2 separate regions of the Homo sapiens genome follow, and region 2 is linked to region 1. Evidence: fine-mapped expression QTL. A gene starts in region 1. The other region holds a variant in brackets. All regions are shown on one strand. Distances are from middle to middle. Region 1 holds the start of SAXO4 (stabilizer of axonemal microtubules 4). Region 2 overlaps SYT7 (synaptotagmin 7).

Region 1 (4,379 bases):
ACGGGAGTGTGAGGCTCATGGGAATGGGGACAGGGATGGGGATGGAAATGGAGGTGGAGGTAATGGTGGGGCTGGGGCAGGGAATAGAGGTGGTGGGGATGGTGGGGACAAGGATGAGGACAAAGGGGAGAAAGATGAGTGGACCCCATCCCTACAAGGTGGCTGCTCCATGCCCTGTCACCTCCACCTTGACCAACTGTTGGCAGTGCAGCCCTAGCCCCACCCCACCCTGAGGCTTCCCTCTCCTGGCCCTGGCCCAGCACTGACCTCCTTGGTGGGGGGACCCGCACTGGGCTTCTCCCGCCCATAGCCTGAGCTGGTCTGGCGCATGCTCCAGGGCAGGGGATGCTTGCCGTCAGGCACCTCCAGGGGGCGGTAGCTCTGGCTGGCCACAGACTGGAAATGGTCCTGGGCTTGTTCCCTGAGGGTGAGGAGGAGCTAGAACCCCAGGCCGCCTGCCTCTGTCCTCTGCTAAGGAGCTTCCCTCCTCCCTGCACCCTCCCACAGATGGCTCAGAGGTCCGCTGTGCCCTGAGTCACCCAGGACCCCCAGCCTAGGGCAGGCAAAGCTCAGGGTCCCCATCCAAGGAACCTGGAGTTGGTCTGATGAGCAGGGCAGGGGCTGGGAAGGGGCCATACAGACCGTACCCCCTGGCCGGGTTGTCTAAGGCCTCCAGACTGGCTTGGCATGAGACCACGGGCTGGAAATTTGATTTGTAGCCGGTGCCTACGTGACTGCCCACACGGGGCTTGAAATCCTCCCGACCTGCCAGAGGGGTAACGGGGAGACAGACCCCAAGGTCAAAAACAGGCAGGGCTTCCCAGGCAGGGCCAGCGTCCTCCGAGGGGCACAGGGGTCACAGTGACAGGGGAGGGCTCAGAGCCACGGGCAGGAGCTTTGCAAGCCTGCCCTTTCAGGACTGTGATGGCAGGAAATGGAGTGGGTGGGCTGGGGACAAGGTCAGTGTGGCAGAATCACAGTGACAGAATTGCAGGGACAGAACCAGAGAAGGGAGCAGCCGGGCAGGGCCCAGGGGACAAACGGATTCAGCAGTTGCTCTGCAGTGTGACAGCCAGAGGGTCTGCTCCTCCCTCAGAGAGAGCCCCTCCCTTCCTGCCCATGTCCTAGCAGAGGCTCCTGCGCAAAGGCACCCTCACCGTAGGCGGTGCAGTAGCTGGTGGCGTAGAATTTCAGGGGGTCCGTGTAGCCCCCCGAACTCATCTTCACATAAGGGGAGACGACCCCCAGGGGGAGTTTCCCCATCATGATGCTGTGGGGCAGGGCCCCAGGGGGCCTAGAAAGGAAGCACGGGGAGCCTCATGGGTCCCAAGCCTGGCTCGGAAGCCCACAGGGGCGAAGATCTGCCCCCCACCACCCACAACGCAGCTGGCCCCTTCTCCCAGGCCTCTGTCTCTCTGCCCCAGCTCCCAAGTCCCTAAACTAAGGACGAAACCGATCATCCACACTTATCCCAAGAGTCCTCATGTCTCCTCTCACTTTCCCACACCTTCTTATTAACTCTTCCTGTCCCCATTTACCACTGGGACAGTGAGGTTCCAAGTGATAAAGGATTTGCTCCATAATAGGTGGTAGTGCTGGGATTCAGACCTAGGTGTTTGACTACTCGGCCCCTGACCTGAACCTTACATACCCACCTCTCGGAATGAATGAGCCGACAACCCACTACCTGGGGAATTCTTGGCCCCCACCCAAGAAGTCAGGCCGAGGCGCTCACTCCCAGCCCCCGGCTCCTCTCTCTCCCTCATCTCCATGGCCTTGCCCGCCTCTGGCCTTGCCTGCCTCCCCTGGGAATTGGCTGCACTCTCCCCGAGGCCCAACCACAGCGGCCCCACCCTCACCTTTCCTCTGCAGAGGCTCTGAGGTCGGGGAGAGGCTGCAGGAAGCAGAGCTCTGCAGAGAAGCCAGCCCTCCTGGAGGAGGCCAAGCAGGAGAAACAATGTGTAGCCTAGCAACTGGTGCCTAGCAACAGCGTCCCCAGGCTTCTGAGACCTTCTAGGGCCAGGGCCCACTGAGGGGCTGACCTGGCCAGGAGGGGAGGGTCAGAAGCTGCCCGAGCAAGGCCCTGCTTCCAGGGCTCCGGCCCCAACCTCCGGCCTCCTCCACAGGGCTGGGAAGAGTTGCTGTCTGCGTGACATAAAATAAAAGATAATCCCGAACACTCACTCCCATAAAGTACCCACTTCTCGGCAGATACTTTACATCCTCTATCTCCATCCTCTGAGCAGCTCTTCAGTAGCTATGATTATCCCCATTTTCACTGGGGGAACATGAGGCTTAGATAAGCAAAATGACTTGACTCCAGAGATCTCGCAATCAGAAAATAGCCAAGTTGAGATTCAAACGTGGGTGGATGTGGATCCCGCTCTTCTGCCTCTCGGTAAATCAACATTTACTATGTTCCTCTGGAGCTGAATCTGTGCTAAGCCCTTTAACACACATTACGTCGTGTAATCCCCCAAACCACCCTGTGAACTGGGCACTATTATTGTAGGGCCAATAAACCGCAGCAGTTAAGAGTGTGGTTCAAATCTGATCTGTCACCTTTGATGAGGTACTTATCCTCTTCACGCCCCCAAATCCCCATCTTCGCAAGGGACGTGACTGCACCCACCTCACAGGGCTGCTGGCAGATTTAGCAAGAGCATGGATTCAGCACCTGACAGGTAGTAAATGCTCTTTTTTTTTTTTAAGAGAGACAGGATCTTATGCTCTCACCTGGGTTGGAGTACAGAGGTACCATCATAGCTCAGTCCAGCCTCCAACTCCTAAGTTCAAGCAATCCTCTTGCCTCAGACTCTCAAGTAGCCAGAACTACAGGTGTGCTCCCCCCTGCCTGACTTGCTTATTTATGTATTTATTTGTTGTAGAGACAGCGTCTTGCTATGTTGCTCAGGCTGGTCTTGAACTCCTGGCCTCAAGTGATCCTCCTGCCTCAGCCTCCTGAGTTGCTGGGATTGCAGGGGCAAGCCACCACACTCGGCAAATGCTCAATTTGCAAAAGCTGCTGTACTTTTAGTCTTATTTTGCAGATAGGAAAGGCGAGGCTCAAGGGGAAATAGCCCAGGCCCCACAGTGGGTGGAGACGGAGCCTGGACTCAAATCTGAGTGCGCAAACTCCACAGTGAGAATCTTCTTCCATGACAGCCTTTTTGCCTCAAATTGGCTTTCAGGCTTGTAAATGTTGTAACAGTTAGATCTCTGGGTGGGGTGGGATAGCCCTACTTTGCAGCATTTGCCAATTTCTGTGATGTCAGTGGTCCCATCAGGGCTGCTTTCAAACCACCACTACAGTGTCTTTGAACCGGGACATGGGAAGGTCGCTCACCACTGTACGGGAGTAGTCCCATCATGCAGACATAATGGGCGTAAGTAACCTCGACAGCACAAATAATAGAAAAATGTACTCACATAATTAAGGGGTGATGAGTTTTAGGTATTTTTTTTTGTTTTTAATATAATTCATTAAATTGCAGGTTTAAGTTATTTATTTATTTATTTATTTATTTATTTATTTATTTATTTATTTGAGATGGAGTCTTGCTCTGTCCCCCAGGCTGGAGTGCAGTGGCACGATCTCAGCTCACTGCAACCTCCATCTCCTGGTTCAAGCAATTCTCCTGCCTCAGCCTCCTGAGTAGCTGGGATTACAGGTGCACGCCACCACGCCCAGCTAATTTTTGTATTTTTAGTAGAGATGGGGTTTCACTATGTTGGCCAGGTTGGTCTCGACCTCCTGAGCTCAAGTGATCTGCCTGCCTCAGCCTCCCAAAGTGCTGGGATTACAGGCGTCAGCCACCGCGCTCGGCCAGTAATTTAATTTTTAACAATGGCAGAGTTAAAAACCAGCTTGCCAATTTCCTGGAAGTTTCGCCTTCAGCTCTCCTGAGCCGGTAGAGCTGGCTTCAGAGCACCCCTGCTCTCAGGGGAGAGTGAGGTATGAATGAAGGCTGAATAAAGGGAAAGGAGGCATCTCCTTTCCTCACCCAGGAGATGCCCTTGCCGCATTCATCCTGTAGTGACCTGGCCTGCCAGGGTGGAGGCTCACTCGTGTCCTCACCCAGCCCCCCATGGGAAGGCAAGCTGAAGCACGTTTGGCACCCACCCTCCGGACTAACGATTCTGTTCAGGGATCACAGGGCACAAGGACACAGGAGTGAGTGCACACAGCCCTGCCCTCCAGCAAAGTGCTCCCATTCTACTACAGAGGCTCGTGGGAGTTCCACACACGAAGCACAAAGGGTGAGACCACCATAGGTGAGGTGCTCACAGGGTGAAGGGAGAGAGGGGCCCTCCTCTAAGTGTGCCTGGATAAGTGGCTACGAGCAAGAGCTTGGACTCTGAAGCCAGATGGTGTGGGT
Region 2 (4,379 bases), 33 kb before region 1:
GGGCACCGGAGCCTTGCCACCATCCCAGGACTTTGGGCAAGTCACCCGCACTCCCTGGGCCTCGGTTTCCCCATCTGTAAAATGATGGTAATAATACTTCACCTACCTCATAGGGGAGGTTGTGAGGCCACCATCACCTGACCTGGGGGTCAAGGCAGGAGGACTCCGAAGGTGCTACCCGTGAGCAAAGTGTAATTACCGAATCCTGACTGCAAGGCCCACCTGCCCCTCCCCCACAGAGCCTCCAGAGCTAGCTGAGGCCAACGCAGGCCCATCCGTCTCTTCACTCTGTCGCAGGCCCTTTCATGGGCTTCGTCTGCCATCTTTGTGGGTGCCCTAGACTTAGTCCTTATCTTGTCCTGGTTTCCTTTCTTGTGACCATCTCCCCATGAAAGTGCTGTACAAATTCCACCCGCCCCAGGACCCCCGCACCTGCCCTCTGGCACCAGATGCCAGGGAAGGGACAGAGGAAAACAGCCACAAACAAGCCAGGGGGGCTCCCCGGAGCCCCAGGGGTGGGGATTGGTGGCCACTGTTTGTATGTTCTTGAGTGCAAGTGTTTTATAAAAAATAAAACAAAAACCCACCATCACAAAAAAAAAAATTTTGCAGCGAAGAGAAATGAAGAAAAACTGAAGAAAAAAAAAAAACAGGAAAAAAAGAACCATACAAAATTTTTCCACCACACATACCCTCTAAGCCAGCAAGATTTCCTCTTTGCAAAATCATATTTTTGTGGGAATGGGCCCTGCTTTTTGTGGCAAGGCCTGTTCTGATTAATAAAGGATCGTGAAAAAGTAGGGCCTTGGCTGTTTCCTCCGTGGGTCCCAGCCCTCCCTCACCTCCCTGGGGGCAGAGGCAGTGGGGTGAAGGGGATGGGGGCCCCGGGGCTGAGCCTCCCCTCAGTGTGTCACCTTTGGGATTTGACTTCACTGGTGACCAGGCCCTTCCCGAGTGTCCAGCCATCCTCAGATCTCTATAGAATATGATCCCACTGGCTTCCCAGAAAGCAGAGAGGCAGCTACATCTCCCAGATCAGGCCTGACACAAGGCTTTTTGGGAGTAGAGTCCTCTCTAGGCCTCAGGGGTGCCCTCCAGGGTCACCCAGCCTGACGTCCCCTCCCTCAGTTCCCAGAGGACACTTGCCACCCTCCAAGGCAGCTCAGACAAACCAAAGGGGGACGCTCCAGCTTTCCCACCACCATCCATGGGGCCACTGTAGTTTCAGGCCAGCGCCTCCTTCCTGGTCCCTGAGGTGGGAAAAGGAAAGACAATGAGCTCTGTGTCTGTTGGCTGGACCTGCGGCTTCTCTCAGCCCTCTTCTAGTTTCATTCTTTAGGATTAGAAAAGTCTCTTCCACTCAATAGAACAGGTTCCAGCCTGAGGTGTGGGAAGCTGGGTTGTAATCCCTTCTGCAGCCTCTGTGGCCCTGGGCAAGCTCTTTCCTTCCACCTGTTTCTTCTGGCCACAACAAAGCAATAACCATCCCCATCCCCTGCCCTTTCTTCCCCACCCAGCCCAGGGGAAGCTGAGCCCCCGCAGCTCTCAGGGTACTTCAGAAGGAAGGTGCTACATCTGGTTCAGACACAGGCACAAAAGGAACGAGCACATCCCCATTGTCATGTGTCCACCTGCTGGCCCCTGCCCCCACCAGGAGTGAAGCGGGCCATCCCATCCGCCCTCTGCTCCCAGCACTTGGGGCCAGCAGCTGCCTCCCGGAGCTGCACTAAGTACCCCATCCAAAGCTGTCTGTCCCTCATTTCCCACAACCTGGTTTAGATATCACTTCTGATCTCTGTTCCAGAGATCAGAGGAAGCCCCGGGGTCAGGTAAGTAGCCTCAGGGGCTCCCTTGGCCAGAGCTTCTGTTCAGGCGCTCTCCATGAAAGCAGCCCTGGAAAACTGAGCCTGAAGTCAGAGACAGCTCAGGCCCAGCACAGGGGGCAGTCCCTTGCCACTGGCTCGGGCCCTTCCCTGGACTTTTTGCCTTCCTCCATTTTTGCTTCTCTGGGTCTGTCTTCGTCCATGCCTGCTCTGAGATGCTCCCCCACCCCTCCCTGTACCTGGGACCACCGCCCTCTGGTGTTTTCTTTCTCCTGTGAGTCCCCCCCTGGATACTGCTGCTTTCTGGAAGGCTGTCCTGGGTTACGTCCTG[C/T]GCTCCTCTCCCTCCCACGCAAAGACAACCAGAAGGACAAGCCTTGAGCACGCCGATGCCCCAGCTCGTGGCTCCCCAGACCATCTGTTTCCCGTGAAGACGCCCCGCTCCCCGTGTCTGTGTCCTGCGTGTATGTGTCGTGTCTTGTGTAGATTGTGAGCCCCCTGGGCAGGGATCCCTGTCTGCATACATGTTCCATGTGGCACGCCCAGGTGTGCTAATAAACGTTCATCTTCAGAACAAGATCGCCAGGTGTCTTGGGGAAGCTTTGGGACAGATGGCTGAGTAAGCCAGTGTGGTGGCATGGGAGGCAGGGAGGGACTTCTGGGTAGGGCCCCCAGCTCCAAGAACCTGTTCTCCCACTTTCCTGAGTCCCATGAGGGTGGGTGGGAAGGGGGTGAGGAATGGCATTCACAAGGTTAGAAAAGGCTCCAGGCCTGGGTCTCTGCTGCCACACTGGCCAGCAGGGCTGCTTGCCTGGAGGCTGGTGGGGGCGGGGGCCTCAAGAACAGGCGCAGTTCTCAGCCATTCCATTCCACTCACAGACCTGACTGCCAGCCAGGGACCAAGCAGCTCTTCTGTGACACAGTGAGCACTGGGTTGGGAGTCCTCACACCGCTTACGGGTGAGTCACTCGCGCCCACACCCCCCCCAACCCTGTTTCTTGCCCTGCCGCCTCCTCTGCCTTTCCCTCCACTTGGTTCCCACAGTAGGAAGGAAGCTTCTTGCTCTGACCACCAGCGCCCTTGGCCTCTGCCCCTGAATCCCTGGTACAAACATGACTCTTGCAGAACTTCCCTGCCCTATTCCCCCATGGCCTGCCCACCTCTGACTGCCCCAGGACGATGTGGGGAACCGCAGAGGCAGCCCATCCATCCCGTCCCATTGTTACAAGCGTCCCTTCCAGTCTCCCCTGCCCCCTACTCCCCAGAGGCCAAGTGGGAATCACAGGAAGTTGTGGGTGGGGGAATGCTAGGACTCCTAATACAGTGCTATCTCCATCACCGAGGGGAGCCGTGACACCCAGTTTTCCCTGGCAGTTAGCTCCCTCCCTACTCACATGGAGACAGAGACCCTCAATCGTGCTCTGTAGCATCAGCACCCAATTTAGCCAAACTCAAACTTTCCAGAAGGGACTGGCTTCTGAGGGTGGAGAGCAAGTGAGTAGCAGGGCCAGGGACAGAGCCCATTCCCATTCCCTGGGGGAGCGCCTGCTCAGCTGGCAAGCAGTCATGGCTGCGGGTGCCACGTTTGACAAAGCAAAAGGGTAAGGCCCTGAGTGCCTCAGGATGGCCCGGGGGACTCATTGCCAGGACTTTGCCCCAACCTAGAGTCCTCAGGTGAGAGCAGCAGGGGAGGAGGTACAGGGAAACAGATCAGACAGAGGGAGGAGACCTGAGCTCACTAATGACAGCAGTTATTGCAGGTGACCATGGCTGCCTCTGCACCCTGCTGCTTCTGTGTCTAAGATTTGCATGAAAGGAAGGTAAACAAACCCCTTGCATGAAGTATTGAGCTGCAGCATCAGATCTAAATAAACCCAATTCCTTGGGCCAGGTGCAGTGGCTCACGCCTGTAATTCCGGCACTTTGGGAGGCCGAGACAGGCAGATCACCTGAGGTCAGGAGTTCGAGACCAGCCTGGCCAACATGGTGAAACCCCGTCTCTACTAAAAATACAAAAAAATCAGCCGGGCGTGGTGGTGCACACCTGTAATCCCAGCTACTCAGGAGACTGAGACAGGAGAACTGCTTGAACCTGGGAAACTGAGGTTGCAGTGAGCCAAGATCATGCTGCTGCATTCCAGCCTGGGCAACAGAGAGAGACTCCATCTTGGAAAATAAAATAAAAGTAAAGTAAATAAATAAATAAACCCAACTCTTCGTGTACAGACGAAGAAGCTAAGGCCCAGGGGGGTCGTGACTTGCTCAAGATCACTTGGTCAATAGCAGAACCAGGCCTGCAACCCCTGCCTTCTGATTGTAGGCCCAGGGGTATTTTCCCTATGCTGTGATACAAGTGGCAGGTCAAGAGGAGAGTCCCCAGTCAGCTGCAGCTCCTACCCCACCTGAGTGATCTTCTCTCAAATTACTTTCTCCAAGTTTCCAGACCCCTGAAAGGCCCACTGGCCCTGATGGAACCCCAACAGGGGGAACTCTGGGAGGGACAAGGTCTACAGCAGCCAGGCCCCAGACCCTCTTCCTCCTTGGGAAGGTGGCAGTCTC

What was found. PIP is the estimated chance that this variant, and not a neighbour inherited with it, causes the effect.
Region 2: its variant is the best candidate, but not a certain one, in a credible set for the expression of SAXO4 in gastroesophageal junction (GTEx, PIP 0.87).

Annotation. Positions count from the first base shown.
Region 1 is chr11:61,478,697-61,483,075 of GRCh38, reverse strand. It overlaps SAXO4 (stabilizer of axonemal microtubules 4), which reads right to left and starts at 1,956. Exons shown (of 14, transcript NM_145017.3): 1 at 1,860-1,956; 2 at 1,158-1,294; 3 at 648-765; 4 at 268-421. The coding sequence starts at 1,266. RefSeq lists an enhancer at 225-519.
Region 2 is chr11:61,511,734-61,516,112 of GRCh38, reverse strand. SYT7 (synaptotagmin 7) reads left to right here. Exons shown (of 13, transcript NM_001365809.2): 13 at 1-2,399. Among named protein-coding and RNA genes, the nearest start is that of LRRC10B, 5.2 kb to the right of the region's middle. RefSeq lists an enhancer at 2,659-3,272. The variant C/T (reference allele first, on the strand shown) is at 2,155.